2 separate regions of the Homo sapiens genome follow, and region 2 is reported to be linked to region 1. The links are microRNA targets in miRTarBase. Many come from high-throughput screens and were not tested one by one. Region 1 holds a microRNA gene; the other region holds the end of a gene's coding sequence.
The links. The annotated mature microRNA hsa-miR-526b-3p reads GAAAGUGCUUCCUUUUAGAGGC and lies in region 1 at 1,609-1,630, shown strand. An mRNA with a match to its seed (bases 2 to 7 or 8) in the 3' UTR can be bound and repressed. Matches are read on the target gene's strand: a 7mer-m8 pairs with bases 2 to 8, a 7mer-A1 pairs with bases 2 to 7 and ends in A, and an 8mer does both.

Region 2: the mRNA of FMNL2 is a reported target of hsa-miR-526b-3p. Seed matches in the 3' UTR shown: 7mer-A1 at 1,956-1,962.

Annotation. Positions count from the first base shown.
Region 1 is chr19:53,692,835-53,697,031 of GRCh38, forward strand. MIR526B (microRNA 526b) reads left to right here and starts at 1,559; the gene lies at 1,559-1,641. It overlaps MIR519B (microRNA 519b), which reads left to right and starts at 2,379; the gene lies at 2,379-2,459. LOC107985342 (a long non-coding RNA gene) reads left to right here. Exons shown (of 3, transcript XR_007067332.1): 3 at 1,195-1,788.
Region 2 is chr2:152,647,486-152,651,682 of GRCh38, forward strand. It overlaps FMNL2 (formin like 2), which reads left to right. Exons shown (of 26, transcript NM_052905.4): 26 at 311-2,341. The coding sequence ends at 420. Among named protein-coding and RNA genes, the nearest start is that of PRPF40A, 68 kb to the right of the region's middle.

The DNA.
Region 1 (4,197 bases):
GGCTATCAACAACTTTTCCTACGTAGAAATTATTCGGGCACTGGTTTATAGAACCTCACGTGGGTTCACGTAGAATTGAAGGGGACCTCAGCGTCCCTTGCAGATGGGATGTGCAATGTATTTGAGATGTACTCGAACATTGCTGTTGAGGTGTGGGCATCTTTTGCTTTTTCCTAATTTTAAATATGGGACTAGTCTGGGTATGGTGACTTCCACCAGTAATTCTAGCACTTTGGGAGGCTGAGACAGGAGGATCACCTGAGGTCAGTTGTTCGAGACCAGTCTGGCCAGCATGGTGAAACCCCGTCTCTACTAAAAATACAAAAATTAGCCGGGTGTGGTGGCACTCACCTGTAATCCCAGCTACTCGGGAGGCTGAGGCAGGAGAATCACATGAATCTGGGAGGCGGAGGTTACAGCGAGCAGAGATCACACCGTTACACTCCTGCCTGGGCAACAGTGTGAGACTCTGTCTCTAAATAAATAAATAAATAAAAATAAAAATAATTAGGTGAATATGGGACCAGCATGGACTTGGGTGTCGCCTTTGTGCAGTGGCCAGGATATTCTATGTCATTTAAATTTTTTTATGTGTACTTCCAAAGCAAGCAGTTATGTATAGGAATTATTCTTCCTATAAGCATGCAATATTTGGAACTTTCTTTGAGACAGGGTCTCAAAAATACATGATGTATATTTCATTTTATATTCTTATATATTATGTACACACAAAATACTCTTCTAAACACAGAGAATACTCCGATATCACCTAGGGTGTGTGTGCGTGTGCGTGTGTGTGCGTGTGTGTGTGGTTCTTTTCTGAGACAATATCTGCCTCTGTCACCCAAGATGGAGTGTGGTGGTGCAATCTCGGCTTACTGCAACCTCCACCTCCCACCTAAGCCTGCTGAATTAGTCTCTACAGGCATGCACCACCACACCTGGCTAACTTCTGTAATTTTTGTACACATGGGGTCTCGCCATGTTGCCGGGGCTGGTCTCGAGCTCCTGAGGCAGGTGATCCTCCTGCCTGGGCCTCCTAAAGTTCGAGGAGTTAGAGGTCTGAGCCACTGGGCCCCACTTGTACTTGTGTATTTCTGCTCAAATTTTATTGAGTAGTTTTTACATCCTAGCCTGTGATCTACTCTGGAGAGTGTTTGTGCATATGACAGTGTATATTCTTCAACATCGTAGACTCCATTTTGGATGCTCCCTTCGTGACTGTGGGTCCTGTACTGGAACTCGAGTGAACACTTGGCTTAAAATCCATTGCTGTTCTCCAGAAATCCTGCCCAATTTTCTCGGTTAAAGGTACGTGTAGTAGGCATTGCTTTTTCTCTTTGGGGACAAAACTCAGGAGGATTGCCCCTTGATGAACAAGGCTAACCTGCTGATTCTTTGAAGCAAGGAACTGGAGATGGTCCTTATAGAGTTTTATATTCTGGATTCCATAAAACATGCATACAGGGTCAATAAATGCATCTTTATTTTTGTGTCTATTTTAACTTGGTCAAAGAAAATTCCAGGAAAAAATCCACGGCATCAGAGCAAGAAGATGTCAGGCTGTGACCCTCTTGAGGGAAGCACTTTCTGTTGTCTGAAAGAAGAGAAAGTGCTTCCTTTTAGAGGCTTACTGTCTGAGAAAAGCAACGTTGTAGTTGATGCTGATCTTTGTAATATCTTTGCAGAGCACGCTTATAATCAGACTTGGATGATGTTGGGGTTTTGTTTTTCTTTTGTTTTTTTATCTAAGACTGGGTCTCTGTTGCCCAGGCTGAAGTGCAGTGGCACAATCTTGGCTCACCACAACCTCCGCCTCCCGGGTTCAAGTGATTCTTCTGCCTCAGCCTCCCAAGTAGCTGGGATTATAGGACTGCGCCACCATGCCTGGCTAATTTTGTATTTTTAGTAGAGACAGGGTTTCTTTAGGAGCTTTTAAGGCCTCCCTTGTAGTCTATCCTGGAGGATGTTTGTGTGTGCAACAATGTATATTCTTCAACATGGTAGATTCCATTTTGACTGCTCTAATCAGGACTGTGTGTCCCTGTGCTGGAAATCAAGTGAACACTTGGCTGAAAATCCACTGCTGTTCTCTAGAAATCCAGCCCAATTCTCTTGGTTAAATATAAGGTATGCATAGTAGGCATTGCTTTTTCTTTCTGGACACAAAACTCAGGAGGATTTCCCCTTGATGAACAAGGCTAACCTGCTGAGCCTTTGTAGGAAGGAACGGGAGATGGTCTTTTTAGGGGTCTATGTTCTGGATTCCAGAAAACATGCAAACAGAGCCAATAAATAGGTCTTTATTTTTGTCTCTATTTTAACCTGGTCAAGGAAAATTTCTACAAAAAACCCAGGGTGCTGGAGCAAGAAGATCCCATGCTGTGACCCTCTAGAGGGAAGCGCTTTCTGTTGTCTGAAAGAAAAGAAAGTGCATCCTTTTAGAGGTTTACTGTTTGAGGAAAGCAACAGTGAAGTTGATGCTGATCTTGGTAATACATTTGCAGAGCATGCTTATCATCAGACTTGGATGATGGTGGGATTCTGTTTTTATTTTGTTTTTTTTTCTAAGACAGAGTCTCTCTTGCCCAGGCTGGAGTAGGGTAGCACTTCCAACGTAGATCTTTTAGGCTCAAACGGTCCTCTTTTTTTTTTTTTTTTTTTTGAGGCGGAGTCTTGCTCTGTGACCCAGACGAGAGTGCAATGGCGCGATCTTGTGTGCAAGCTCACCTCCTGAGTTCAAGCAATTCTTCTGCCCCAGCCTCCCAAGTAGCTGGGACTACAGGTGCCTGCCACCACTTCCAGCTAATTTTTGTATTTTTAGTAGAGACAGGGTTTCACCACGTTGGCCAGGCTGGTCTCAAACTACTGACCTCAAGATCCACCCACCTCAGCCTCCCAAAGTGCTGGGATTACAGGCGTGGGCCATTGTGCCCAGCGGTCCTCTTTTTTGAGATGGAGTCTTGCTCTGTGACCCAGGCTGGAGTGCAGTGGCAGGAACTTCGCTCCCTGTACCCTCCACCTCCCAGATTCAAGCCATTCTCTCCTGAGTCAGCCTCCCTAGTAGCTGAGATCGCAGACATGAGCCACCATACCCAGCTAATTTTTGTATTTTTATTATTTATTTATTTACTCATCGATTTTTGAAACAGAGTCTTACTCCGTCCATCAGGCTGGAGGTCAGTGGCACAATCCCACGTTCAAGCAATTCTCCTGCCTCATCCTCCCGAGTAGCTGGGATCACAGGCGCACACCACCACGCCCGGCTAATTTTTGTGTTTTTTTTGTTTGTTCGTTTTTTTTTTTTTTGTAGAGACAGGGTTTCAACATGTTGGCCAGCCCAGTCTCCAACTCCTGACCTTAAGTGAGCCCATACACAATCAAGAAGAGAGCGAGACCTGTTCTTTTTTTCTGTCTTTGACTATTTGAGACAGTCTTGCTCTGTCACCCGAGATGGAGTACATTAGTGTGATCTTGGCTCACTGCAACCTCTGCCTCCTGGACTCAAGCAATTCTCTTTTTTTTTTTTTTGGAGAAAGAGCCTCTCTGTGTCTCCCAGGCTGGACTGCAGTGGTGTGATCTCAGCTCACTGCAACCTCAGCCTTCCAAGTAGCTGGGATTGCAGACATGTACCCCCATACCAGCTATATATATATATGTATTTTAGACACAGTTTCACCATGTTAGCCAGGCCATTCTTGAATCCTGACCTCAGGTGATTTGCCGACGTAGGCCTCCCGAAGTGCTGGGATTACAGGTATGAGCCACTGCACTCAGCCTTTTTTCCTAATTTTGAATATGGGACCCATTATGAATTTGGGTGTCACCTATGTGCGGGGGCTATGGAAATCTCTGTCACCCCATTCATTTGTGTGTGCTGTCAAAGCACCAATATGTGGGAATTATGCTTTATGTGAGCATATAGTATATGGAACTTTGGTTTTTTTTTATACAGGGTCTCAAAAAAAAATGAGTATATTTCATCACAATGTTCTGTGTATAATTCCATACACACAAAATAGTCTTCTATACACAGAGAACACTCTTATATCACTTTGGAGTTGTTTTTGTTTGTGTATTTTGTTTTAATTTTTATGAGACAGGGCCTGGCTATGTCGCTGAGGCTGGAGGGCAGTGGTGAGATCTTGGCTCACTGCAACCTCCACCTGCCACCTCAGCCTCCTGGATTAGTGTCTA
Region 2 (4,197 bases), not on the chromosome of region 1:
CAGCTGCTTCTAATTTAAGAAACATTTCAAAATAAGACTTCAGCTAGACTCTGGCCAGTGACAGAAATAATCTATGTATTTTTCTCTCAAAGTCCTAGAATCCTACCAGTATTACATCCTGTTTTGTTTGATTGTAAATATTGAAGGCAAATGTTTTATGTCTTTGATTCAATGCTCAGTGAGTTTGAAGGGCCCATTAGCTGACTTTTCTACACAAGCTGCTTTGATTGGCTGCCAGCTGGCCTTTGTCCTGCTTAGACACATGCTATTAAAGGTTGCTATTCTCTCACTGGCACTCTCCCCTTTACAGATCTTAGAAACCAACCATACAGACGAGCCGATGCGGTGAGGAGAAGCGTCAGGCGGCGCTTTGATGATCAGAACTTGCGTTCTGTTAATGGTGCCGAAATAACAATGTGAACCTGAGACTGGCCTGCATGAATACAGGGTGTGCGTGAATGAAACTGCCCACATGAACTTTATGTGCTACGATTTAACTGCAGCCTTGAACACACACAAAAATATTCTTAAGGGCTCAGATTTAGCAAACACGGAAGAATTTTAAAATGAGCTCTCCTTTCAACCCTTGTTAACAAGTGCCTAAAAATGGAAGTACCTGTTCAGATTAATCAAAGCAATAGGATTTGATTTGATTAGGTATCTTTTTACACCAGTATGTTATTTTTAACCAAAATGTAAAGTTCTTATTAAACTCATTACCTGCCATTGTGATTGTCCCATCATGGCCCACCTGGTTTCCTGATGTTGTAAATAACATCAATGCATCTGCTGTGGGTCCTTTGCTGAGATGTCTTCGAAGGAATTTTGTTTTAGCCATATCCATCAACTTTGTATTTTACTTGCAATTTGGAAGAAGGAAAGTCACATGATGAAACTCCTTTTGTCTATAACCAGGCCCTGGCAAAGTGCAAACAGGATGCAACTGCAGTGGCACAAAGGTCACTCAATCCTTTGTTTCCAGTTTCACATTCTACTACTTCTGCGCTAGAGAACGATGCTCTGTGAGAGGCATTCACTAGTATGAATGTGGGGATATAGTGTATAAGACTTATTTGCAGTACTGTGTTCTTCAGCTAGAGGCAGCTTTTTAAATAATGCAAGTGTATTTATTAGCATTAAAATTAACATCTCAGTAATCAGCATTAGCATTTCTGAGGACCATTATTAATTCTGAGAACAGAAATTGGTGCCTTGCAAGGAAGTTTACTAGCTCTATCAACAAGCATTCAAGGTTACATCTGCTAGCAGAGTAGTGTTAGGAACCTGGCCTTACTCTCCTCTGACAATCGCAATTTTTTCTTATTTTTTATAAATTCAAGAAGATACACTTGGCATCGTGTATCGAGGCTAAGTTTTTCATGCATTTCCCAGACTACTTATGGAGAATTGCAGTTTAAGTTGCTGAAAAGTATTAACATGGTATTAAGCTTAAATAATACGTAATGGGACTAGATGGCCCACTAAGCCACTGTTATTTTCCTTCCTCTCTGGCAGGGCACTTGATCCATTCCAAAGTCAAAAACTGGACTGAAGCTAAATTTGTACTTTTCATAATATACATTCTGCTTCTGGCTTATCTTCTTGGTACATCAATATATTAATTGTAAAGTTTATTGTATAGTATTTAACCGCTGAAGTTCCTATTTTATGTTGTGCTTATGTGAACCCCTTGGTGAAGGTCCCTTTTCCTTGGATGTGTAGTTATATGATCTTTTTAAATGTACAGATATTTTGCTATAAAATCGGTGCAGTTTTTTATGGTTTTTACACTTCTCTTTAATTCCCACCTAAGCCTCTGGGTAATATTGTAAATATTGTTTTAAAATGCATCAGCCTATGCTATACAATCTGAATGTTATTTTAACTTATAGTTTTTTTTAATATATATATTTAACTATAAGGACAGTTTAGGGAACAAGTTACCTACCACATTTCACTTTAGTGTACCTATTTACAGAAAGATTAAACTGCCACCTGCGGGCACATTCCCATAAATGTGTACTTTACTTTAAAAAGAACATGCCACGATTTTGTCTTTCTGTGGACTCAACATTCACTTCGATTAAAAATAGCAATTTGACCAAGTTGGACTTCCACTACAAAGCAGCTGTTTTCCAAAGTTCAATGCTGACATATATGTATATTAAAATAATTGCCTATTTATTAATCTACAAATAGACAACGTTGGCATGTTCTTTTCTGTTTGTCTATTAATGGGCCTGCTTCTTAGCAATATTAGAATGTTTTATAAAAGCAATTCATGTTACTTTTCTGGTCTTTTCATGGCATATGAGCAAATAATAAACTATTTACACTACTATTCTGTAATATGTTGTAATCTTTCAATGGTACAATTTAGGGGGTTTTAGCAATATTATGTAGACTTACCTTCTAGAAACAAATATATCTTGCTATTTGAACTCAGAATCCAAATATACTTGGTAAACGTCAGGAAGGATTCCTCCCTATGTGAACTCTTGACCGCTTGCTATATAAAACATAGACAATGGATCTTGGAAGTGAGACTACATCTCCAAAATTGCATTTATAAACATACACCTTCTAGGTAAACAGCACCTTTGTTTGGTGAAATGCCACAACGCCCCCAGCAGCCCCACCAAATGTTACAATTAGGATGTTGTACAAATAAAGATAATAGGCTATATATTAACTGCATAGTTAACCCTGCACCCAATAACCATACCAGTTGGCAAGGCAAACAAGCAGTTTGGCCCCCATTGCACAAACAGTTGTAATAAAACTCCCAGTCATCAAAAGTTTATGTGTAACATTTCATATGTTCTTTTTATGGAAACAAGAAAAATTTTAAATTTTAGAATACCTTTCAAGTGGCTTAAATTTAGAGGCATATATATTATAGTCATTTAAGGAATTATAATTTATATAATTATTGTCACAACTACCACAGCGTACTTTGCATTTGTCACACACAACTGCTTACAGATTAAAGGCAATAATCTTTATTCCTCACAAGAAGCCTGTGAGGTATTTAACACTGTTGTGCACATTGGGAAACTGACTCAGCAAACTGACTTGCCCAGGGTGCAATCTAATAAATGCCTATAATAAAGCCTTAGGTCTTTTGTTCGCAATTCAGTGCACTTTCCACTAAACCAGTTATACAATGTGTTAGAAGCTTTATTTTATGAGAGAAAAAGTCTTGCGATCAGTAAGGATCTCTACTTTTGTTTTACCATCAGACTGGTGCCTAATGGTAAAAGAAAAATCTTTTAATATTCCACAAATTCAGAATGTTTTCAAACTCAACTACAGCAGTTAAGTTCAAATGAGGCAGATAGAGTAACATTCATCTTTCTTTTAAAAGGTATTTACCAATGACTTTGAATTAAATACTCACGTTCCCCACTCCCCATCATCTAACACTGAAATTCACTGCAGTGCCCAGTGGCCATCCTGACTCAACTCTGCTCTCAATAGAATAGGGCTTGATACCCATCACTGACTCTGCTTTGGTTCAACATACTGGAATCTTCTCTGTAGAATAAGGTGATTTTACACTGGAAAATAAATAGATGATACATTTCTTATACTCGCTCCATAATCCACATTTTGTTTGTTAGACAAGGTCTGGCTCTATCACCTAGGATGGAATGCAGTGGTACAATCTCGGCTCAGGGCAACCTCTGCCTCTTGGGCTCAAGCCATCCTCCCACTTCAGCCTCCCGAGTAGCTGGGACTGTAGATACGCACAACCACACCTGGCTAATTTTTCTAGAAATAGGGTTTTGCCGTGTTGCCCAGGCTGGTCTCAAACTCCTGAGCTCAAGTGATCTGCCTGCCTCATCCTCCCCAAGTGTTGGGATTACAGGCACAAACCATTGTGCCCAGCCACACATACCTATTTAATGTTTGATAACTCTTCTTAACCCTAATATATTTCCTAATTTTTATCAGAAATGTCTCCAAAGATGAATTTATCAGATTTCATCAAAAGGATTTGTTTTCCATTTCTTTTTAAACTAACAGCCCATCTATGCCCAAGAAAAATCTGAAGAAACAAACATGTACGTGAAATCAGTGATGGGTTTTTTTTTTTTTTTTAAGTCTTTTTATCAAGAAAAAGAGGAATTACACTGAGAAAACATAACGTGGGCCTCCAGCAACTCTCACAGCATAGAGCTTGCTGCCTGAGTG